Linked DNA regions of Homo sapiens. The protein of the gene in region 3 purifies or fractionates together with the protein of the main gene of each other region. This does not show direct contact. Each region holds a gene or a part of one and is shown on either strand. Other genes may lie near its edges. The genes, in order: GATB, CRAT, CBR4, NDUFAF5, LARS2, TARS2 and PRORP.

Region 1 (3,500 bases), about 17 Mb from region 3:
TGATGACAGGCCTGGCTCTGAACTGCCACATAAACAAGAAGTCCTTGTTTGACAGGAAGCACTACTTCTATGCAGACCTCCCTGTAAGTACACTTTGTGATCCACCCCACTGCAAGTTCTCAGAGCTGGGCCAGCCCTGCTGTGGGGGGTCGGAGCAAGGGAAAGGGGCTGTGCCTCTCATGTTTTCAGCCAGCACTGTGTCCATCCCAGCAGGAAGTTCGGCCCAGCCCTGATGCAGGCAGGTGCCCCTGATGGTTACTAGATCGGATGCAGTTGTCCTGATTGCTGACTTCTTGCTTACCTCATGCTTCTGGTGGCTCGCTCATAATTGCACAGGGAGTAGAAGCCAGTGTTTGCAGGCTCAGCCTGGCCGTGGTATTTGGTGCTAATTGCCTGTTAGTACAAAAGCTAAGGCTCTGGCTGATGCAACAGTAAATGCATACTGTAGTTCTGTCAGCAGAGCGAGAGCGAATCGCTTTTAAGTTGAAGTTCCCAATAATAGGGCTGTCTCCTTTGGAGACATTTCTGTCATCTCACAAGGAGCAAGTAAGTGGACAATAGTAAGCGGAAACATGAACCAGAAATCTGGACCAAGAACAGTAAACTGTTGGTCCAGTTACTTGGCTGAGCAGTAAACTCCATATTGACCCGCTTTTTTCTGAAAATTAAAAGGTTTTTTTCTTTAAGCCACACCATGTGAGTGAGAGCCAATTTTTCATACTATTGAACAGGAACAAAACTGAAATGTTGAATGGGTTTCCCAAAATAATGTTTTGTTTGGTCTGATTCAGAAAAACAACAGTGATGATGTTGCTTCACCTCTTTCTCCTTGAACTGAAGATTGGGGCGAGCTGTTTTTTAGTGGGTGAGGGCACGAGTAGAATTAAATAAAAAATACAAGTAAGACCTGCGTTCTCCAGTGGCTGCTGCTTTTCCCCTCTGGCCTCCAGCCTCTCAGCAAGTCTACTGTTTGGTAGGGCGGAAAGAATTAAACCGCCTTTCTTTATCTTTTAAGAGTGACAGACAGTTTGGTTGAGGTGGGAGATTTAGTAATAATATGACTAAAATGAGATGTTTTGGTCATCTGTGGCTTTCTGGTCTTTCTGGCCCAGATAGTTCAAATAATCCAGAGTTTCATGGGACATACTCATATAATAAAGCATTTGTTGTTTTTTCTGAAATTCAGATTTAACTGGGTGTCCTATATTTTATCCAACAACCCTACCCAGAGCTTAGTTTTACAAATTGAGACTTCCCGTCTCAGCATAGAAAACGGGTTAGCCTTTTGCAGGATTCTCAAAGTGTGGTCCCCAGGGCACTGACATCATCATCTCCTGGGAACTGGTAAGAAATATAAATCTTCAGGCCCCACCCTCGACCTACTGAATCGGAAACCTTTGAGGTCGGGCCAAGCAGTCTGTCTTTTGACAAGCACAGTAGTATTTCTGATGCAGTTAAAGTTCTTAAACTGGGGGCCTGCCAAGTGGTGAAAGACACGGATTTTGGAGCCTGACCATCTGAATTCAGACATTGACATTGATGCTCACTAGCTCTGTATGTGGCTGTGGGCAAGGTCTTAATCCCTCCACGCCTTGTTCCTCCTTCCTAGGGTTGTTGTGGAATTAACTGAGGGAACACAGTGAGAGCAGCACCTGGGACCTAGGAAGTGCCACAGATGCCTTTGCTTTTATTCTCTGTTCTTCTCCAATTCTCCTCATTGACCTGCTGTCTCTTTAGTGCGTATTGGTGCCTCTGTGCGTTTGCAAGTAATTCTTCCTTTCCACTTAGAAGCAGGTGAGGGATCCTTGCAGGATCCATCAGTGCTTTAGTACCATGTGCCTTCCATTAATGGAGGGGGAGTGTCACAGCATTTTCTGACTGGAGGAGCTAGGGAGGTTGGGTCAGGGAGGGCAGCTGCCATGATTGATTCCTTTAAAAAGCAGAAACAAAACAAGCTTAAACACACACTAGCAACTGCTGTTGGCCGTGTGGAGAGTAGATGGCAAAATGCTTAGCCAGCATTCCAAATAAGGAGGGTCTGCCAGGAGCCTGGTAATGAGATGCAGAGTTTAGGCTAATGAGCTGGATGGAAACAATAAATTCTTTTCTTAGGGGTCCCTGACAATGACATTATTGTTATTCCCCAATACAGCACTTTAATGAGGGCAATGGGATGAATTCGTGTTGTTTATTGCATCGTTATCAGGGGTGGAGGATTTGGGGAGGGTGAAGGGGTGATGGCAGGGGCAGAAGAGACCAGGCTCAATGATGGCTGCAATGCAGCAACTAATTTTTTTCTCCTTTTCCTTTTTTTCTTGTTGTTTTTGCTTTAAGTAGGCCTGTCGTTGTGTGACATTGTAAAAGGGATAGTAAACTGGATCCCAGCTTTTATGTGTGGACCAGTGACTATGTTTACCCTATGTTTGTGTGCAGGCAGGCTACCAAATTACCCAGCAGAGGCTCCCAATTGCTGTGAATGGGAGCTTGATATATGGCGTCTGTGCAGGGAAGAAGCAGAGTCAGGTGATCCCCAAGACGGTGAGGATCAAGCAGATCCAGTTGGAGCAAGACAGTGGCAAAAGCCTCCACGACAACCTGAGGTCTCAGACGCTCATTGATTTGAACAGGGCAGGTAGGCTTGGAGTGTTTTCATTATTTCTCCTTCCTACTTCAGTTCTTGGATAGCAGGGCCCTCTTTTCACCGCTAGAGTTTTCTTGAACAAATTGAGAAAGCAGTCACAGGAGCCTGATAGATGGAGACTAAAATATCAGCATTGGGATTGGCATAGCTGACTAGCGAACATGGCTTGAACTGTAATTATTAGGCTTGCTAATAACTCACCCTGAAGTTAGACAAACCTATCCACCTAGTCACAGACCCAGCAGCTGGATATTTTAAGCAGTCATTAAAAGAAGTGAAACATTTAAAAATCAAAACGTGGAGCCTAGGTGCCTACACGTGTAATGCTAGTGACTCAGGAGGCTGTGGGAGGATCACTGTACGCAGAGTTTGAGATCAGGCTGGGCAACATAGCGAGACCTACTTGCCAAAAAATTAACACCTAGGTGTGGTGCCATACACCTGTATCCCCAGCTATTCAGGAGGCTGAGGTGGGAGGATCACTTGAGCTCAAAAGTTCAGGGCTGCAGTGAGCTATGATCATGCCACTGCATTCCAGCCTGGGCAGCAGAGCAAGATGACGCCTCTTTAAAAAAAAAAAAAAAAAAAAGGTGGGAGGGAAGAGAAATGATTGAGAGGCTAGAACCACTCTGAGAGTCCTTCAGTAAGGCAGGGTTTTCCTGAAACTTAGGCCTAATTTTTCTGTTGGTGAAATTGGAGAGCTGCAGTGAGGCTGACTCTGCCCCTCTTTGGTAGGAGTGGGCCTTCTGGAGGTGGTCCTGGAGCCCGACATGTCCTGTGGAGAAGAGGCGGCAACAGCTGTCAGGGAGCTGCAGCTGATCCTTCAAGCCCTGGGGACCAGCCAGGCGAACATGGCAGG
Region 2 (3,500 bases), on a different chromosome or scaffold from region 3:
TGTACCTCTCTGGGATGAGGAGACCCCCCACCTCGCCGGCCCTCCAGGGCATTCACCAAGTGCAGGGTGTGGGTTCAGAGCTTCGAACTCAACAGGACCCTGCAGGCCCACAGCACTCCTCGAGGCAGGGCCCAACACCTGGCCCACTTTAGACACAGGAAACCGAAGCCCAGGGGTCACATGGGAGCTGGTGTGGCAGCCGGGGAACCCACACAGGTGGTCTGACTTTGGGGTCAATGCCCCTGAGCAAGACATGCTTTGGAGGACTGCTGGTACTTGGGGGCACAGGGGGTGTGGAGGCGGGTGGGCTTCTCAGCCAGAGGACTTGGACTCTAATCCTAACTTGCTATTTAGCTGAGAGAAACTACCCTAACCATGAGGTGTCCTCAACTAGGACATGGGGCCCACATTGCCTGCTCCACGTTGAGAGGATGCAGCGGGAAACATGTCTGCCCATGGCTGTGCGGGGCCCAGCATGCCGGGGGAATGTTGGGAAAAGGACTTGTGGGGTGCCTGTATAAACTGGCCATAAAAATAGGGGACAATAAGTTGTGGAAAGCCAGAAGAGGCCACGGAGGAGGAAAGCCTACTAATTGCCATCATGTTCCCATGCTCAGAGCGAGACCCGCTCTCCTATCTGTAAACACTGTGTTCAAGGAGAAAGACACTCCTTTGAAACACTGGGAAGTGGACAGATGTGCAGGCTCCTAGTTAAGCCCGCTCCCACCAGCTACTCTCCGATAAGTTAAAGACACGCTGTTTGAGCACAAAGGAGATTCATTTAAACTGCTATTGCTATAGATTATGCCTCCTATGAGGCACTGCCTCCCTTTCACTGTTTCGCCCTGAACATGTGCTTCTTAGAGCTAAGTGACTGCACTCAATAGTGTGGAGACCAGAACTCTGCGCCTTTTGCAGCCTCCATTTTGCAACTGGCCCCTGGCTCCCACCTTCATGAACTCTTAACCTGTCTCTTCTCATTCCTTTGTTGCCAGCAGACTTCGGGTACCCTACAGGTGGAGTTGAGGCTGGTCCCCAACAGGGGAAGAGGCCTGGGTGTGCAGCCCCAGCACGGCCCCCAAGAGGCACCTTTGATGAGGGTGTTGTATGCCTTGGCCCAGGAGTTGCGGTGGTTGGAGGTGAGGATGCCCACAGGCTCCTTGTTGGTCTGTAGGGATGAGTTCCAGATCTTCTCCAGCTGCACAAAGATCTGATCCGCAGTGAGGGGTGTCCCGTCACTGTGGTACACATCCAGCTCAAAAAACTGTTGGGGCACAGGCAGGTAAGAGGAGGGAGCTGAGTGGGGACCTCAGGCTGAGAGCAGCCACCTCCCCACACCTGCCTCCTCCTGGCCTTGGCCTTGGAGGGGATGGAGTCAGGCCAAGGGTGAGAGGGGGAGGAGGTCCTTGGATCACCCTTCTGGGCTGGGCAGGCCCACGGCCCCTCCTGGCCTCCCTGGGCCCCCAATGGAGAAGCCAGGGGCGCCCATTCCTGGGGCACGTGGGCACGTGTGCTGGGGAACCCCAGTGGGGAAGCCGACTGCGGCCGTCCGGCTGTACTCCTGCAGCAGGGCCGGGGCTTGTAGGTGTGGGTGGGGGCCACCCACCTGGTAGTTGTGTACCACGGTGATGTGCGTGGGAGGCTTCTTGGTCTTGCTGAAGTTGCTGACTGTGTCCTGCTTGGGGCCCGGCACTCGGCAGGAGGACAAGATCTGATAGTACTGGTTCATGCACAGTGGCTTCCCCCCCAGGTACTCCACGGGCAGGGTCTCGCTATGGGGTAGAGGGGCAGTGAGGCCACCACTGGGCAAGTGAATGGGGAGGAGGGCAGGGTAGACAGGGACCTGCTAGGTACTGCTGGGGGCTCACACAGTGTCCCTGCTCCCACTCCCAGATGAGCAGGACACCTCAGGGCTGTGCTGTGGGCAGGGGGCTCGCTTTCTGCCCCAGATGGGCCCTGTTCAGAAGTCATCTAGAAACTCCCTCCTTTCCCCTCTCTGGGCTTCAGTTTGTCACAGGGGAGATGAAGCAGCGAATAAAACTCTGGGGTCCTCTTTAGTTGGGATGGGACAGGGTCACCCACCAAGAGGAGATTCCAGCAGCTGGAGCAGGGCCCAGGGCCCAAGCTGGCATGCCGGGCCAGGGCTGGGGTCAGAGGTGGCTGTGGTAATTAAGCAGGCCTGGGCAGGTGTGGGGCTGGGCAGGGGTGGGGATGCTCACTTGTCAATCATGACCTTGAAATCCAACACACCCTCAATGAGTTTGGCAGCAAATCTGGAAAGATTGATTAGAGATTAGAAGCTGCGTGGACACCCTGAGGGAGGCCCCGGGCTAGGGACACCTGCTTGGGGAGCGGGAGGTCTAGTCTTCCAGCCTCTCTCACCGCTTCCAGAAAGCCTGGGAGCGCAAGGGAGGGGCCTGCGAGTCCCAGCTTGCCAGCCTGTGTGTGCTTCTTCATAACCTCTAGAGGGAGCATGGTCGGGAGGGCTCGGGGAAGTGCTGGTGGCCAAGGGCCTAGTAGGACTTGGGTGCTGGCCCCCTGCAGCTGGAGTGTGGCTTGGTTAGGGGTCAGTGGGCTGGGTCTACCCACAAAGGGCCTGAGCTCCTGAACCTCAGCCTAGAATCTGGAGGGGGTGTCATCTGCTCTGAAGCATCGGTTCTGGAGGCCCCGGGCCCCTGGGGTGGTGTGATGGGAGAGCAGTGGCTCCGGTGTTCCCTCCACTAGGTCCCTTCCCCACTCTGGGCCTCTGTGTCCCCCAGGCCGCCTTCCTCCCAGGGCTGTCTGGCCCATGGCAACCACCCTCAATGCTTGGGGCCGCCCCTGGATCCCACCATGGGGACCAGTGGCTGGAGTTCCTGGGCCTGAACCCCGGCCCTTCCCAGGGTACCCTGGTCCCTTTAAGAGAAGCAGGTGGTGGCAGCCAGTGGCTGGTCCTTGGGCAGGAGATCCTTGTCACTGGTATTTTTATCTCTGGTAGGACTGGAATAGGGGCTGGGGCAGGTGACCTGGCTGAATGTGGAAAAGAGGACTGTGTACAGAGGTCACCCCTGTGGCTAGCTGAGAAGAGTGGAAAGGAGAGGTGAAGTGCTAAAACTGGGGTCGGGGAGAAGCCTCAGGTATGGAGGAGGATGGGGCCTCTGCGAAGATGTGGTGGTTAACAGCCATGAGGCTTTAGAGCTGGAGAGACCCTGCTTCCTGAATGGGGTCTTGGGCAGCTCCCTTCCCTGCTCCGAGCCTCAATTTCCCCATTTGTAAAATAGGGAGGATGCTCCCTACTTCATAAGGCTGCTTGTGGGGCAGAAAGATAAACAGGGTCGGGGCCCCTCCAAGCGGCTGGGCGAAGTGAACTCGAGGGGCCCGGCTGCCTCCTGGCCCCCAAACCCCAGCCACTCACCGGAGCTGACCCTGCAGGTCCACGAAGTCCTGCTTGGGTAGCATCACGCCTGGGCTCGAGTAGATGACCACAGGCTGGCGGTACTGGAGGTAGGCGGTCTTGAGCC
Region 3 (3,500 bases):
TTCCATGGTGTATATGTGCCACATTTTCTTAATCCAGTCTGTCATTGTTGCACATTTGATTTGGTTCCAAGTCTTAGAATAAGACAAAATTTGCCACATTGATTGACTCTTCATTTCGTGAGAGATTTCTCTGCAGCATGTGATGCTGTTTGATAGCATTTTATGCAAGTAGATCTTTAAAAATTGGAGCCACTCCTCTCAATCCCTGCTATTGCTTTATCAACTAAGTTTATAGGATATTCTAAATCCTTTGTCATTTCTTTCAACAGTATTCACATCTTCACAAGGAAGAGATTCCATCTTGAGAAACAACTTTGTTTATCCATACATAAGAAGCAACTCCTCACCCATTTGTTTTATCATAAGATTGCAGCAATTCAGTCACATCTTCAGGCTCCACTTGTAATTCTGCTCCACTGAAGTCTTGAACCCCACAAAGTCATCCATGAGGGTTAAAATAACTTCTTTCAAACTTCTGTTAATGTTGGTATTTTGACCTGCCATGAATCACAAATGTTCTGAATGGCATATAGAACGGTGAATCCTTTCCAGAAGGCTTTTAATTTACTTTGCCCAGATTCCTAAGAGGAATTACTATTTATGACTGCTATAGACTTATAAAATGTTTCTTAAATAAGACTTGAAAGTCAGAATTATCCCTTGATCCATGAGCTGAAGAAAGGATATTGTGTTAACAGGCACGAAAACAACATTAATCTCCTTGTACATATCCATCAGAGCTCTTTGGTGACCAGATGCATTGTCAGTGAGCAGTAATATTTTGTTTGTGGCACCCCAACAGCAGTAAACATCAAGAATCACTGATCACAGATCATTATAACAGATGTAATAATAATGAAAAAATTTAAGATGGTATGAAAATTACCAAAATGTGACAAAGAGACACAGAGTGAGCACTGCTCACAGTGAGCCATGGTGTTGGAAAAGTGCTAATAGAATTGCTTGTTGCAAGGTTGCTACAAGCCTTCAATTTGTTAAAAAAAAAAAAAAAAAATGCAATATCTGCAAAGCACAATAAAGCAGAACAATAAAATGAGTTATGCATGTAATTCAATTTTAGTGAGATTTAGCTTCAAATGAACTAGTTTTTAGGGTGAAAACGAGAGCTTTCTGCCTTATGTCTGTGTTGTAGAATCATAAAATTAGTCAGCTTTTGTCTGACTTTTTCTGGCTTTAACCTCTACCTGCTGGAAGCCTTTATAAATACCACAGAATTTTCATCATATCTGACCTACTCAGAGATTAGAGTGCATCCCCTTCACGTAGTGAATCAATTCGCAAGCACCTGCATTGGCAGTTTTGTATCAGCTGCTTTCAGATGCTATTTTCTGTATGTATCTGGAGCAGACTTGGACTCTTAAATCTTCCGTAAATGACTGATGACAATGGTTAGAATTTCTAATTTTAACAAAGGACAAGGTGAAGTGGGTTTTACCTTTTTGTTTACTATAAATTATCTAAATTTTCAAGTAACCCCATTAATTGAATTTAATACGCTTTTTTTTTTTTTTTTTTTTTTTTTGTCCTAGGAAGCATTGTTGGCTTAAAAGGCAACTCTGGCCAGTCCGTTTACAGTGCCAGTAAAGGAGGATTAGTTGGATTTTCACGTGCTCTTGCTAAAGAGGTAGCAAGAAAGAAAATTAGAGTGAATGTAGTTGCACCAGGTTAGTGAAAACTTTATTAAAATAACTTGATTATGATTATTGTTTTATAGGGAAGCCATTATTTGGAACATTAGTAATTGACATCTGGGTAGAATAGTTTGTAAAATGATTGTGAAAAGAATCAAATAATGAACTGGGGGACTCAAAAAAATTTTTTGTACCTCATATTCTATATAAAGTCTATGTGTTAGCCTGTTTGCATTGCTCTAAAGGACTGTCTGAGGTAATTCATAAAAAAAAGAGGCTTATTTGGCTCTCGGGCCTGCAGGCTGTACAAGCATGACACCAACATCTGCTCAGCTTCTGGTGAGGCCCAGGAAACTTTTTTTCAGTCATGGCGGAAGGTAAAGAGGTAGCAGCCAAGTCATATGGGGATAGCAGGAGCAAGAGAGAGAGGAGGTGGCAGGCTCTAAACAACCAGCTCTGGCATGAACTAACAGTGAGAACTCATTATTTACCATGTGGAGGGCACCAAGCTATTCATGAGGAATCCGCCTCCATGACCCAAACACCTCCCGCTAGGCCCACCTCCAACATTGGGAATCACATTTCAACATGAGATTTGGAGGGGACAGACATCCAAACCATAAGAGTCTTTATTTTTAAATTTTGCACTAGTGGAATAACTTAAGGTGGAGAGGGTCTTAGAAATAATTTTTTCCAGTCATTTTTGTAGATTAGAAAACTGTACCTGGGATTCAGAGTGACTTGCCTAAGGTTACACAGCTAGTTTATGGAAGAACTGTTACTAAAAGCTTTGTCTTTTGATTTCCACCTAATGGGAGCTTAAAAATAATGTCCTACCAGGTATGGTAGCTCATGTGGGAGGCTGAGGCAGGAGTATTGTGAGGCCAGGAGTTCCAGATCAGCCTGAGCAACATAGCAAGATGCTGTCTGTACCGAAAAAAAAAAAAAAAAATTAGCTGGGTGTGGTGGTGCACACCTATAGTCCCAGCTATTTGGGAGGCTGAAGCAGGAGGATTGCTGGAGTCCAGGAGTTGGAGGTTGCAGTGAGCTATGATCATGCCATTGTACTCCAGCCTAGGTGACAGAGCGAGACCCTGTTGAGACCCTGTCTCTATAAAAATTAAAAAAAAAATTCTTTTTAGATTTTCTTTATATCATTACACAAACTTTAGATAGTTTTGTCCTTTTACTACTATGGTCTGTCTAAACTATCTGGAACCTCCCATTTTCCTAATTTTTACTTTTCCATTATTTGCCTTTCGCCAGGGTACTAGTTGATAAAATTGCCTGGATTAATGAAGAGGGTAATAAAAAGGTGCTAAAACTCAAAAATATATGATCACTAATTAGCTGGTGTGCTAGAAATTTTGATTAGGTATTTACTTGGTTTTTGAGTAACACAAGTGTTTTTATCTACCTCTGCCAGTTAGCCATGGAATCTTTGTCCTAGCCTACTGTAGGTACTTAAGAATTAATCACCTATATAAGAAAAGGCAGTTTATTTTGGTTTGCTGGTCCTTTGTAAGAAAGAGAGGGCTGAAGTAGACCTTTGCTACCTTTCCCTTTCCGGTCACTAATGGCTCCAGCTTGGACCTTACAGTTGGTGTTTTCTTTGGCACTGAAGTTGAGCCAGCAGGTATCAGGGATTTATCAAAATATCCTATTAACCCTTTTGGTCTATAGTGTGTCTTTATTTCAATTCTTTTCTTTTCTTTTTTTTTTTTCTCATAGCAACTAGCTACATTCAGACATTCTAAATCTATGAATATTTGATAAGTGACTGTGGTTCAGATACATCTATTTGCTGGGAGTAGGGAGAGAAAGAAAAAGAAAAAACAATCCAGAAGC
Region 4 (3,500 bases), on a different chromosome or scaffold from region 3:
CACGCCTGTAATGCTAGCACTTTGGGAGGCCGAGGCGAGTGAATCTCTTGAGGTCAGGAGTTTGAAACCAGCCTTGCCAACATGTTGAAACCCTGTCTTTACTAAAAATACAAAAAAGGTAGCTGGGCGTGGTGGCATGCATGAACTTCCTAAAGTTCATCTGTGATAGAAGGTTTTTCTCCCCAGTGCATCTTAATATTTTGGAATTGCTCTTGTTGGGAGCAGGAGTTTGAAAGAGCATATTGGCTCCTGTATTCAAATGTTAGAGCAATTCCAAAATAATAAGTTACATTGGGGAGAAAACCCTTCTATCACAGATGAGTTTAGCAAGTTGGGGGAAAAAAAAGTTGAGGCACTATATCATATTATCTCCACCAGAGAGCATAGAATATATTCTTTCAAACTCCTGCTCCCAACAATCATAACTCATTCTGGACAAATTCTGGACAAACTCATTCTGGACAAACTCAAACTAGGACAGCTAGTTTTCCTTTAGCCTTAATTCTTCTGGCCAGGTACAGTGGCTCTCACCAGCAATCCCAACACTTTGGGAGGCTGCAGTAACAGGACTGCTTGAACCCAGGAGTTCGAGACCAGCCTGGGCAACATAATGAAATGCCATCTCTACAAAAAATTAAAAAATTAGCTGGGCAAGGTGGCGCATGCCTGTAGTCCCAGCTACTTGGGAGGCTGAGGCAGGAGGATCACTTGAGCCTGGTAAGTTGAGGCTGCAGTGAGCCATGATCATGCCACTGCACTCTAGCGTGGGTGACAAAGCAAGACCCTGTCTCAAAATAATAATAATTCTGTACCAGAATGTAGTTCTCAAGATTACTCTTTTCCCTTTATGTTTTCTACTATCTTCCTCCACATATGTTACACAAACATGTAATGCAAGTATATATCAAATAGGTTATAGGATACAAGGCACTGAGCCAGATTTTTGGGTGAATACAAAAATGAATTAGGGATCCTGTCCTCAAATAACTCAGTCTAACAGAAAAAATATCTTTGTGGTATCTTCTTTCTCCTGTCTTATAGTCAAATAGATTTTCTTTCAGAAGTTCAGCAGGCTCTCCACGTCCAGTTCAACTCTTTCGATAGCTGTTTTTAGGGTGACCAGTCATCAAGGTGTGCCCAGGACTTTGCCACTTTTGGCCTGAAAGTCTTATGTTCTGGGAAAGCTGGTCACCCTTGATGTTTTCTTTCGTGAGTGTGTAATTCCTTCCCTGGTTTTTTAGATGTGCTGAACAAAGTTAGAAAACTACTCACATTCTGTCATGAAATGAAAAATATGCAGAGCCTTGGTCTATAAAGAACCCTGGGCAGGGAGTCAGAACCTGAGTTTTTATGTTAGCTCATCTGCTTGCTATTTGCAGGTGACTAATTCTGTTGCTTTCTGTTTTCCCATAAGTATGATAGAGTTTATAGTATGAGCTCCTTAGTTTTTAAAGTATCTAATACTTGTCGAAAAGCATTAGGAAAGATAAACATGAGCTTAACACAGTATGGTTTGAAATGGACATTCAGTTCTGTCCTGGAACTCAGCATAAGGGGAGGCAGTTATACCAGAAAAGTGTGACCGTACTCTAAGGAGACTGGGAATATGACTTTCGCTGTCACGCATGACTACACTCTAGGTGAGAGTAGGGTCAAAAGAAAATTCAAGGCCCGGGCACGGTGGCTCACGCCTATAATCCCAGCCCTTTGGGAGGCCGAGGCAGGCAGATCACTTGAGGCCAGGAGTTCAAGACCAACCTGGGCTACGTGGTGAAACCCTGTCTTTACTAAAAATACAAAAATTAGCTGCATGTCATGGCGCATGCCTGTAATTCCAGCTGCTCGAGAGGCTGAGGCATGAGAATTACTTGAACCTGGGAGGCAGAGGTTGCAGTGAGCCAAGATCGCGCCACTGCACTCCAGCCTGGGCAACAGCAAGACTCTGTCTCAAAAAAGGAAAAAATTTAAGAGATTAAGTTTCAGTGTATACAGCTCTGGTTTTTGTTTGTTTTTATCACCTTAAAAAATGGATGTACCACACACCTACTAGAATGGCCAAAATCCAGGACACTGACAACACTAAATGCGACAAGGATGTGGAGTTCATTATTGGTGGGAATGCGAAATGGTACAGGCACTTTGCAAGATAGGTTGGTTGTTTCCTACAAAACTAAACATACTCTTAGCGTACGATCCAGCGATTGCATGCTCCTTGGTGTTTACCCAAAGGAGATGAAAACTTACGTCCACGCAAAAACCTGCACACAAATGTTTATAGTAGCCTTATTCATAATTGCCAAAATTTGGAAGCAGCCAAGATGTCCTTCAGTAGGTGAATGGATAAACTTTGTTGTATCCAAACAACAGAATATTATTCAGCACTAAAAAGAAACTGTCAAGCCATTAAAATATTTGGAGGAAACTTAAATGCGTATTACTGAATGACAGAAGCTAATCTGAAAAGGCTACATAGTGTGTAATTCCAACTGTGACAATCTGGAAAAAGCAAACTCTGGAGACAGTGAAAAAGATTGGTGATTGCCAGGGGTTGTGTAGGGGAAGGATGAATAGGTGGAGCACAGAGGATTTTTAGGGCAGTAAAGCTACTCTATGATACTATTATAATATTGGATATATGACATTACACGTTTATCCAAACCCTTAGAATATACAACACCAAAAGTGAACCTTAATGTAAACTATGGACTTGGGGGATAATCACTTATCAGTATAGCTTCATCAGTTGTAACAAATATACACTCTGGAGATATTGATAATGGGGGAGGCTGTGCATGTGTGGGAATAGGAGTATGTAAAAAAATCTCTGGGTTTTCCTCTTAATTTTGCTGTAAACCTAAAACTGCTCCAAAAATAATTAAAAATAAAGTCTTAAAAATTGATTTTTTAAAAAATGGGATATTATTGGAAAACTCACAGATTCAAACTTTTGATGAGTTACACTGTTTGCCTTGAAAAAATTTAGATCTGCAGATAATTTTTTTCTAAGAAAGTCTGACTTAGAATAATACTATATTTCTGTAGCTTAATTGATTTAACTGATGAGCTTCTTTGAGCATTTTTACTACTTTTTGCAAATAAGGTCTCAGAATAGCACCGTTTAGATAAAATGCCTAAGTAGGAATGACTTTTACATAATTCAGTGATGAATAATTAGAAAATAATCATATCAGATTCTTTCAGTTACGCAAAGTGATATATTGACATGGGGAATTTTCTGGTGTGACACAAGGCAGGTTTTCCTCTAGGAATATTTATAATTTTAAAACCTGTATGAAAACGATCAGTGGATTTGGATATGCAGTTTTAAACTTCAAAATTAACACCTTTTTATGGGTTATCATTAACCTGGTGATAATTTTACTAATTAATTGTGCCAGTTAAGCTAAAACAAATCTGTATTCTCATATTTTAGTTTGCATTGGGTGAATGACCTTCCTAGAGCACTTGAGCAGGTAAGAAAACTTATGTTCATTCAACTA
Region 5 (3,500 bases), on a different chromosome or scaffold from region 3:
AGGGTTCTAGGGGCTGAAATTCAAGCAGGCAGTCAGGCCTGCTTTGATGCCTAGATTAGGAATAATTGGTGAAGAGTGCTGAATTACAGTGTAAGTTTAGACCTATAACTTAATTTCCACCTGTACAGTGGTATTAAACATGAGTTTTTATCTTAAAAAGACCACGCAGGTCATAATATGTGGATACTGGGGGGCTGAGTCACGAGAAGGGATTAAGATGGTAACATCAACACCCACATTAGTCTGGGCACATTATTCAAAGCAGGGAAGTGTCTTTCCTTTTGGTAGGGGTGACCATGTGGATGAAGTACTACCATTCAGAGTACAGGACAGAGAGGTTGCTGAGTATAGATGCCAAATGTTGGACCCTATATCTGAGGACATCTGAGTCCCGAATGATGTTCAAAAAGAGGCTTCGACAAATTCTAGTTAGTAGTAACTGGTCAAAAAAGGACTCTGCCACGTACCTGCCCAGATCTCTGAGGTTACATGAGGGGCCAGTGGAGCAGCCATTACCATCAGGGCACACAAAGCATCCTCAAACTCGGGGCTGTGGAGAATGACGCTCTGAGAGGCTTGCTAAGGAAGAGGAAAAAAAAGTAAGAAGACTGAGGTGTAAAAATAAGCACGGGTAAGAAAGACCATTAATGTATCTGAAGTCCAGAGACACAAGCTGGTAGGAAGAAACCCCCTTTGCCATCCATTTCTGCTTGGGACAATGAACTTCCCCTACTTAATGATAGCACTGAGATAAACTACAGCAAGCCAGGTGTGGTAGCTGACACTTATACTCCCACTACTTTGGGAGGCCAAGAATTTGAGACCAGCCTGGGCACTATAGTGAGACCTCATCTCTATGAAAAATTAAAAAATAAAAAAAAATTAGCCAGGCACAGTTGCACACACCTATAGTCCCAGTTACTTAGGAGGCTGAAGTGGGAGGATCACTTAAGACCAGGAGGTCAAGGCTGCAGTGAGCTATGACTGCACCACTGCACTGAAGCTTGGGCAACAGTGAGACCCTATCTTTAAAAAAAAAAAAAAGCTCCAGCAGCAGCAACAACAAATACATGATGTTAACTTATTTAGTCCTCACCACTCTTTGAGGGTGGTATTCTTACCCCATTGGACAGATGAAGCAGCTAAGGATCAGCAAGGGAGGGCAATCTGCCCCCAGGCACACTGTAGCCAAACTCTTACCCACTCTGCTAGGTTTCCTCTGTGCTGCAGGTCCACAGAGAAATGCACTGAGACCTGCTCAAAGGTGTTAAACTGTGAAACACCTAGGGCAGGGGGGCCTCTATACCCTACTTAGGGACCCCTATTCTCTGAAATACCTTTGGTCAATTCCGGCAAACATAGTTGTGTTTAGCTCTGTGTGTTATTATTAAGGACTTCCCAAATTCCGGAATGGAAAGACAGAAATTCATTACAGTTTCATTTCAGTGTCTTGCTTTATTTTTTCTGATTAAAAAACTAACACACACTCAGCACAGAATATACAGGAAATGAAAAACTACTCATAATTATACAACCTAGAAAAAAAGGTATATTTTATCCTTGTCTCCAAAAATGCAAAAATGTGTATATAAATGCTTATTACACATGTAACATTTTCAGGATTGGTATTCTTGCCATATGAACACTTCCTTTTTTTTAATTTTAAAAATTAATTTTTTTTTTAAATAGAGATGGGGTATCTCACTATATTGCTCAGGCTGGTCTCGAAATCCTGGGCTCAAGCCATCTGCCTGCCCTGGCCTCCCAAAATGCTAGGATTACATGTGTGAACCACTGCACCCAGCTCATATGAACACTTTTGTATCTTTTTTTTTTGAGACAGAGTCTCTCTCTGTTGCCCAGGCTGGAGTGCAGTGGTGTGATCTCAGCTCACTGCAACCTCTGCCTACAGGTTTAAGCAATCCTCCTGCCTCAGCCTCCTGAGTGCCTGGGACTACAGGTGCACAGGTGTGCACCACCACACCCTGGCTGATTTTTTGTATTTTTAGTAGAGACAGGGTTTCACCATGTTGAGCAGGTTGGTGTTGAACTCCTGACCTCAAGCGATCTATCTGCCTTGACCTCCCGCAGTGCTGGGATTACAGGCGTGAGCCACTGTGCCTGGCCTTGTGTCATGTGTTTTTACTTAACATTATATCATAAACAGTTTCTGATATTAAGTATTCTTCAAGACATGAGGTTAATGGTGGTGGCACATTCCTTTCTTATTGATATGACATAAGTCATTTCACAATTCCCCCATCAGAGGACACTGGGGTTCCGAGTCTCTGTGATTATAAATTATCTGCAGTGAACACTCCTGGATCAGAGGATATAACACAATCAACCTGATAGCCGAAGTGCTTCCTGGCAAGGTTACACCAACCACACCTATCACTGGCGTGTAAAAGTCTATTCTGCCATCTTTGCAATAGCATGGGGAATAATTATGCCTTTATTTTTATTTTTTTGAGAGAGAGTCTCGCTTTGTCACCCAGGCTAGAGTACAGTGGCACCAAACAGCTCACTGCAACCTCAAATTCCTGGGCTCAAGGGATCCTCCCGCCTCAGCCTCCTGAGTAGCTAGAACTACAGGTGCATGCCACCACACTTGGCTAATTTTTAAATTTTTTACAGATGAAGTCTTGTTATGTTGCCCAGGCTGGTCTCAAACTCCTGAGCTCAATCGATCCTGCTGCCTCGGCCTCCCAAAGTGCTGGAATTACAGGCATGAGCCACTGTGCCTGGCCCTGAATAGTTACGTTAAAGTATTCTCAGCAAATTTGACAGGTATTTAAAAAAAAACAAAAACAAAAACAAAAGCATCTTGTTTTAAATTTGCCTTTCATGATAATTAGAGAGGCAGACTTTTTTTTCTCCACAAATGTATTGGCTATTTCTATAACATTTTCTATGAGTTATTATCTTTTCATATGCTTTGACCATTTTTGGTTAGGTATTTTCATATTAATATGTAAGAGTGCTTTACAAGGATATTAACCTTCTGTCTGACATGTTATAAATTTTTTTAACATACTGAAAATGTCAAGTTTTATGTAGTCAAATTTGAAATTTCTTCCATTGTTCTTTTTTATCTTTATTTTACTTTTTAAAAATTACCCTTTTAATTTTATTTTTAGAGACAGAGTCTCCTGCTCTGTTGCCCAGGATGGGTTCAAGCGATCCTCTCGCCTCAGCTTCCCGAGTAGCTACAGCTACAGCTGTATGCCACCATGCCAGGCTAATTATTTTATTTTTTTACTTTGTTTTTGAGGCGGAGTCTTGCTTTGTCGCCCAGGCTGAAGTGCAGTGGCGTGATCTTGGCTCACTGCATGCTCCGCCACCTGGGTTCACACCATTCTCCTGCCTCAGCCTCCTGAGTAGCTGGGACTACTGGTGCCTGCCACCACGCCTGGCTAATTTTTTGTATTTTTTAGTAGAGATGGGGTTTCACTGTGTTAGCCAGGATGGTCTTGATCTCCTGACCTCGTGATCCGCCT
Region 6 (3,500 bases), on a different chromosome or scaffold from region 3:
AAATCTCAGGGGCAGTTGGAAGTCAAGCTGAATTGTCCCACACTGATGTGGCCGGCCCAGGGCATCGTGGAGGTGCACGTCAATCTACAGGAAACAGATGGGAAGGCACGAGATAAGCCAGAAGCACTATCCAGAACCACTATCCTCCATTACCTGTGCCATCCCACCCTTTAACCTACCCTCATCCCGGGCTACTACCTTCATCATGTCACCTAGCTCTATCATACGCTACCCCTCCAGTTCACTCTACTCAACTCACTCTGGCAGTAGTTCTCAGCAGCTCTCTCCATCTAATAATGGTGTTATAATATTACCTGATGTCCACACCCTGGCCTCTCAATTCCTTGAGCTCCTCATCTCAGAGATCTTCACCACCACCCATCTATGGCTACACCCTTTATCCTGTCATCTCCCCCAATGGCTGTACCTCTGAAACTGTCCATCAGACACCCTACTCTGATTACTGTCTCTTGGTCAGCCAGCTCTGAGAATTATTCCTTTTTTTTTTTTTTTTTTGAGACAGAGTCTCACTCTGTCACCCTGACAGGAGTGCAGTGGCACGATTTCAGCTCACTGCAGCCTCCGCCTCCCGGGTTCAAGCGACTCTCCTGCCTCAGCCTCCTGAGTAGCTGGGACTACAGGTACATGCCACCACGCCCAGCTAACATATATATATGTATGTGTGTGTATATGTGTGTGTGTGTGTGTGTATATATACACACACATATATATACACATATATACACACATATATACACACATATATACACACATATATACACACACATATATACACACACATATATATACACACATACACACACACACACACATATATATACACACACACACACACACACACACACACACACATATGTGTATTTTTTTTTTTCAGTAGGGATGGGGTTTCACCATGTTGGCAAGGCTGGTCTCAAACTCCTGATCTCAAGTGATCTGCCCACTTCGGCCTCCCAAAGTGCTGGGATTATGGGTGTGAGCCACCACACCCGGCCATGACAATTATTCCTATTAATGGCACTTCAACCCACCGGTTCTTTAACTCCTCTTTTTCTCTCCCATCCTCAGGCCCCTCCCACCTTTGTTTCTTATCCCATGAAGCTGTACCATTTTCCCTAGTTCCCTTTGTACCATTCATTGTTCTTCTGCACCTTAGCCTCCTACATCTTTGGCCCTGCAAGAGAACTGCTCAGTGCTGCCCAATATGTCACAAACCACACAGATGCAAATGCAGAGATTGATGCCACCATGGAAGTCAGTATTTCGAGATTCAGCTGGTCCCTGTCTGCTGCCAGCAATCCTTTGGATTGCCCTAATAAGCTCTATGCTCTGTTCTCCTCAGGGATGTTCCAGTTTTTTGCTCTCTCTTTTTATAGCAGTATCTGAGCCAGCAACTTATTAGACTGATTCAACATAATACACACTTTATGACTGTTATATCTGTAACCTTAAGCACATTGTTTAACCTCTCTCAATTTTTTTCTTAGTAATAAAGATATTTTATTTGCCTACTGTTATTGCTGAAATAAATCAGAAGACACACTTTCATTACTGTTAATATTTTAATTTACTAACTACTTAGTGAAGCAGGTAAATAAATACCATATGCTGGAATAAACACTTGGGACATAAAAATGAGAATACACATGTTACCTGAATAAAAGACCCCAACACAGTCAACAGCAACTTTGAGTACTCAAAAGATTTTAGCCAGGCAAGGCACATGGCCCACTCCTGTAATCCCAGCACTTTGGGAGGCCGAGGTAGGTGGACCACCTGAGGTCAGGAGTTCGAGACCAGCCTGGCCAACACGGTGAAATGCCGTCTACTAAAAAAGGGAATACAAAAATTAGCTGGTGTGGTAGCGGGTGCCTGTAATCCCAGCTACTGGGGAGGCTGAGGCAGGAGAATCGCTTGAACCCAGGAGGTGGAGGTTGTGGTGAGCCGAGATTGTGCCACTCCACTCCAGCCTGGCGACAGAGTAAAACTCCGCCTCAAAAAAAAAAAAAAAAAAATTAGCTGGGCGTGGTGGTGCACACCTGTCCCAGATACTCGGGAGGCTGAGGCAAGAGAATCGCTTGAACCTGGGAGGTGGAGGTTGCAGTGAGCCAAGATCCGCCAGTGCACTTCAGTCTGGCAACAGAGCAAGAGTCTGTCTCGGGGAAAAAAACAAAAACGAAAAAAACGCTGGGCAAGATGGCTCATGCCTGTAATAATCCCACCACTTTGGGAAGCCAAGGCGAGCAGATCACCTGAGGTTGGGAGTTCAAGACCAGCCTGGCCAACATGGTGAAATCCCATCTCTACTAAAAATACAAAAATTAGCCGGGCGTGGTGGTACATGCCTGTAATCCCAGCTACTCGGGAGGCTGGGGCAGGAGAATCGCTTGAACCTGGCAGGCAGAGGTTGCAGTGAGCCGAGATTGCGCCACTGCACTCCAACCTGGGCGACAGAGCAAAATTTGATCTCAAAAAAATATATAAAAATAAATAAATAAAACAAAACAAACAAAAAAAAGATTTTAGCTATATAACAGTTCTTGAGTAATTTCCTTTCTCTATCTTTTTATTTATTTATTTTATTGAGACAGGGTTTTGTTCTGTTACCCAAGCTGGAGTGTGGTGCCTTGATCATAGCTCATGCAGCCTCAAAATCCTGGGCTCAAGTGATCCTCCCACCTCAGCCTCTTGAGTAGCTGGGACTACAGGTGCCCACCATCACATCCAGCTAATTTTAAAATTTGTTTTAAATTTTTTGTAGAGACGGTCGGGCGCAGTGGCTCATGCCTGTAATCCCAGCACTTTGGTAGGCCAAGGCGGGCAGATCATGAGGTCAGCAGATCGAGACCATCCTGGCTAACACGGTGAAACCCCATATCTACTAAAAAAAAAAAAAAAGAAAAAAATTAGCCAGGCATGGTGATGGTGATGGGTGCCTGCCTATAGTCCCAGCTACTCGGGAGGCTGAGACAGGAGAATGGCGTGAATCCAGGAGGCGGAGCTTGCAGTGAGCCGAGATCGAGCCACTGCACTCCAGCCTGGGCAGCAGAGCGAGACATAGTCTCAATAAAAAAAAAAAAAAAAAAAAAAAAAAAAAATTTTTTTTTGTAGAGACGAGGTCTTATTATGATGCCCTGTTACTATGTTGCCCAGGCTGGTATCAAACTCCTGGATTCAAGTGATCATCTCAGCTCAGCCTCCCTAAGTGCTGGGATTACAAGAGGGGGCCACTGCACACAGCCTTTTCTTCATATCTTCAGCCCCCTCACTGACAACTCTCCTCTTCTCCACTCTCATTTCAGCAAATGATCCTGCCTCATGAAGAATTCAGATAATTGATACCATGGGATGGGAAGAGCCTCAACTTCCTGTTACCATGCCTACAAACTTCCTTGCATCTACCTTCAGCCTTTCCTTCCACCCTGGATACAATGGCAATGGTGATCCCTTCTATGAAGGCTTCTCAATCCTACCTTAAACCT
Region 7 (3,500 bases), on a different chromosome or scaffold from region 3:
TGGCCTCCCAAAGTGCTGGGGATTACAGGCATGAGCCACTGTGCCCAGCCAGCGGCAGCAATTTTTAAGAAATAGTTTAATTACAGATGAATGGCTATAGATTGCCAATGATAAGAGCCACAAGTCTGAAACCCAGGAGCTCTCTACAATCTAATTTTGATGTTATGACTGTTTTCTATAGATTTACTATACAAAATTAGCCTCAATTTTTTAATCTACAAAATAGAGATTAAAGTAACTGTTAATTGCAGCTATGAAAAATGATAGTCTTATTAGAAACTAGTAGGGCATTTATAAATTAACAAATGGCTACCATATAGAAAAAAAAACTGCTTAGGTTAATTTATGAACATACTATGTTTGGAAAAAACAAATGTGAGTAATGAGTGATTAATATCTCTTGATATTGTATATTGATAATTTTCAAATATAAGGATATGACCCAAAGGGAAATGACAGAGCGACCCCAAAGAGAAAGCAGAGACCCAGGAGAAGGTTAGCTAAAGGTTACACGAAACGGGAAAATCTGGCCCTGTATTGCAATCTTTCTTTTAATTCCTCACTTTTAATTGTTTTCTCCCAGCCTTGAAGAGCGACTTATTAGTGATGAAAATAGTAAATCTTAGGGGAGCATGCAGTTGGTCACTGTGGCACCCTGAAGACCTTAGTTTTAGAGGAAGAAAAACTGAGGAGCTAAGAGCCCCAAGAAGGTCATAAATGGGTATAATAAATATTTCTAGAGATGTGGAATAACAAAGTAAAACTTATACTTACAAGTTGAGATTCACGAACTTTAGGAAACATTTTGGCAACATTGAGACCATCAATGACAACATCAAAAGGAGGACGAGATTTTATGAAGTTCTCAAATCTCTTAAGTTCCTAATAAAGAAATGTCAGACAAAACATTAATAAGAACTCAGTAAGGACTTTATTATAAACACACTGCAGTGACCTTTATTATTGTTTTGATAATTCAAAATATTCATCCCTTAAAAATACACACACACACACACACACACACAGATACTCTACAAATGAAATCTGAAAAAGCCAGTCTAATGGATGCAACTGCATACAATTATCCAATACACTCTATAATCTCATAGTGCTTTATACTGCACAAAGCACTTTCATATGTAATTTCATTTGATCTGCAGCTGGCCTATCTAGACTTCTAAATTAACCCACATGATAGTTATGATAAGAATGAACTGGCGGTTCCAAGATGGCCGAATAGGAACAGCTCCAGTCCACGGCTCCCAGCGTGAGCGATGCGGAAGATGGGTGATTTCTGCACTTTCAACTGAGCTTTGAAGAGAGCAGTGGTTCTCCCAGCACGGAGTTTGAGATCTGAGAATGGACAGACTGCCTCCTCAAGTGGGTCCCTGACCCCCGAGTAGCCCAAGTAGGGGCAGACTGACACCTCACACGGCCGGGTACCCCTGAGACGAAGCTTCTAGAGGAACGATCAGGCAGCAATATTTGCTGTTCAGCAATATTCGCTGTTCTGCAGCCTCCGCTGCTGATACCCAGGCAAACAGGGTCTGGAGTGGACCTCCAGCAAACTCCAGCAGACCTGCAGCTGAGGGTCCTGACTGTCAGAAGGAAAATTAACAAACAGAAAGGACTTCCACACCAAAACCCCATCTGTCTGTCAACATCATCAAAGACCAAAGGTAGATAAAACCATAAAGATGGGGAAAAAACAGAGCAGAGAAGCTGAAAATTCTAAAAATCAGAGCACCTCTCCCCCTCCAAAGGAACGCAGCTCCTCGCCAGCAACAGAACAAAGCTTTGCGATGACTTTGATGAGTTGAGAGAAGAAGGCTTCAGACGATCAAACTTCTCTAAGCTGAAGAAGGAAGTTCGAACCCATTGCAAAGAAGCTAAAAACCTTTAAAAAAGATTAGATGAATGGCTAACTAGAATAACCAGTGTAGAGAAGTCCTTAAATGACCTGATGGAGCTGACAACCATGGCACGAGAACTACGTGACGAATGCACAAGCTTCAGTAACCGACTCGATCAACTGGAAGAAAGGGTATCAGTGATGGAAGATGAAATGAATGAAATGAAGCAAGATGAGAAGTTTAGAGAAAAAAGAGGAAAAAGAAATGAACAAAGCCTCCAAGAAATATGGGACTATATGAAAAGACCAAATCTATGTCTGATTGGTGTACCTGAAAGTGACAGGGAGAATGGAACCAAGTTGGAAAACACTGCAGGATATTATCCAGGAGAACTTCCCCAACCTAGCAGGCAGGCCACCATTCAAATTCAGGAAATACAGAGAATGCCACAAAGATACTCCTCAAGAAGAGCAACTCCAAGATACATAATTGTCAGATTCACTAAAGTTGAAATGAAGGAAAAAATGTTAAGGGCAGCTAGAGAGAAAGGTCAGGTTCCCCAGAAAGGGAAGCCCATCAGACTAACAGCGGATCTCTAGGCAGAAACTCTACAAGCCAGAAGAGAGTGGGGGCCAATATTCAACATTCTTAAAGAAAAGAATTCTCAACCCAGAATTTCCTATCCAGCCAAACTAAGCTTCATAAGTGGAGGAGAAATAAAATGCTTTACAGACAAGCAAATCCTGAGAGATTTTGTCACCACCAGGCCTGACCTAAAAGAGCTTCTGAAGGAAGCACTAAACGTGGAAAGATACAACCGGTACCAGCCACTGCAAAAACATGCCAAAACGTAAAGACCATCGATGCTAGGAAGAAACTGCATCAACTAATGAGCAAAATAACCAGCTAACATCACAATGACATGATCAAATTCACACATAATATTAACCTTAAATGTAAATGGGCTAAATGCTCCAATTAAAAGACACAGTCTGGCAAACTGGATAAAGAGTCAAGATCCATCAGTGTTGCTGTATTCAGGAGACCCATCTCACATGCAGAGACACACATAGGCTCAAAATAAAAGGATGGAGGAAGATCTACCAAGCAAATGGAAAACAAAAAAAGGCAGAGGTTGCAATCCTAGTCTCTGATAAAACAGACATTAAACCAACAAAGATCAAAAGAGACAAAGAAGGCCATTACATAATGGTAAAGGGATCAATTCAACAAGAAGAGCTAACTATCCTAAATATATATGCACCCAATACAGGAGCACCCAGATTCATAAAGCAAGTCCTCAGAGACTTACAAAGAGACTTAGACACCCACACAATAATAATGGGAGACTTTAACACTCCACTGTCAACATTACACAGATCAACGAGACAGAAGTTAACAAGGATATCCAGGAATTGAACTCAGCTCGGCATCAAGCGGACCTAATAGACATCTACAGAACTCTCCACCCCAAATCAACAGAATTTACATTCTTCTCAGCACCACATCGCATTTATTCCAAAATTGACCACATAGTTGGAAGTAAAGCACTCCTCAGCAAATGTAAAAGAACAGAAATTATAACAAACTGTCTCTCAGACCACAGTGCAATCAAACTAGAACTCAGGATTAAGAAACTCACTCAAC

The links.
Region 1: the proteins of CBR4 (region 3) and GATB purify together in Homo sapiens (affinity purification with mass spectrometry; one large-scale study listed by BioGRID and IntAct). This does not show direct contact.
Region 2: the proteins of CBR4 (region 3) and CRAT purify together in Homo sapiens (affinity purification with mass spectrometry; one large-scale study listed by BioGRID and IntAct). This does not show direct contact.
Region 4: the proteins of CBR4 (region 3) and NDUFAF5 purify together in Homo sapiens (affinity purification with mass spectrometry; one large-scale study listed by BioGRID and IntAct). This does not show direct contact.
Region 5: the proteins of CBR4 (region 3) and LARS2 purify together in Homo sapiens (affinity purification with mass spectrometry; one large-scale study listed by BioGRID and IntAct). This does not show direct contact.
Region 6: the proteins of CBR4 (region 3) and TARS2 purify together in Homo sapiens (affinity purification with mass spectrometry; one large-scale study listed by BioGRID and IntAct). This does not show direct contact.
Region 7: the proteins of CBR4 (region 3) and PRORP purify together in Homo sapiens (affinity purification with mass spectrometry; one large-scale study listed by BioGRID and IntAct). This does not show direct contact.

Annotation. Positions count from the first base shown.
Region 1 is NC_000004.12:151,716,008-151,719,507, reverse strand, and holds part of GATB (glutamyl-tRNA(Gln) amidotransferase subunit B, mitochondrial isoform 1 precursor), read left to right. Parts: coding exon 1-83; intron 84-2,433; coding exon 2,434-2,632; intron 2,633-3,376; coding exon 3,377-3,499; intron 3,500-3,500. UniProt on the Homo sapiens protein: Allows the formation of correctly charged Gln-tRNA(Gln) through the transamidation of misacylated Glu-tRNA(Gln) in the mitochondria. The reaction takes place in the presence of glutamine and ATP through an activated gamma-phospho-Glu-tRNA(Gln).
Region 2 is NC_000009.12:129,100,794-129,104,293, forward strand, and holds part of CRAT (carnitine O-acetyltransferase), read right to left. Parts: coding exon 3,395-3,500; intron 2,274-3,394; coding exon 2,220-2,273; intron 1,773-2,219; coding exon 1,607-1,772; intron 1,265-1,606; coding exon 1,090-1,264; intron 1-1,089. UniProt on the Homo sapiens protein: Catalyzes the reversible transfer of acyl groups from carnitine to coenzyme A (CoA) and regulates the acyl-CoA/CoA ratio. Also plays a crucial role in the transport of fatty acids for beta-oxidation.
Region 3 is NC_000004.12:169,000,256-169,003,755, reverse strand, and holds part of CBR4 (3-oxoacyl-[acyl-carrier-protein] reductase), read left to right. Parts: intron 1-1,550; coding exon 1,551-1,685; intron 1,686-3,500. UniProt on the Homo sapiens protein: Component of the heterotetramer complex KAR (3-ketoacyl-[acyl carrier protein] reductase or 3-ketoacyl-[ACP] reductase) that forms part of the mitochondrial fatty acid synthase (mtFAS).
Region 4 is NC_000020.11:13,795,028-13,798,527, forward strand, and holds part of NDUFAF5 (arginine-hydroxylase NDUFAF5, mitochondrial), read left to right. Parts: intron 1-3,433; coding exon 3,434-3,473; intron 3,474-3,500. UniProt on the Homo sapiens protein: Arginine hydroxylase that mediates hydroxylation of 'Arg-111' of NDUFS7 and is involved in the assembly of mitochondrial NADH:ubiquinone oxidoreductase complex (complex I, MT-ND1) at early stages. May also have methyltransferase activity.
Region 5 is NC_000003.12:45,521,076-45,524,575, reverse strand, and holds part of LARS2 (leucine--tRNA ligase, mitochondrial), read right to left. Parts: intron 580-3,500; coding exon 468-579; intron 1-467.
Region 6 is NC_000001.11:150,500,919-150,504,418, reverse strand, and holds part of TARS2 (threonine--tRNA ligase, mitochondrial), read right to left. Parts: intron 85-3,500; coding exon 1-84. UniProt on the Homo sapiens protein: Catalyzes the attachment of threonine to tRNA(Thr) in a two-step reaction: threonine is first activated by ATP to form Thr-AMP and then transferred to the acceptor end of tRNA(Thr). Also edits incorrectly charged tRNA(Thr) via its editing domain.
Region 7 is NC_000014.9:35,178,052-35,181,551, reverse strand, and holds part of PRORP (mitochondrial ribonuclease P catalytic subunit isoform 1 precursor), read right to left. Parts: intron 883-3,500; coding exon 775-882; intron 1-774.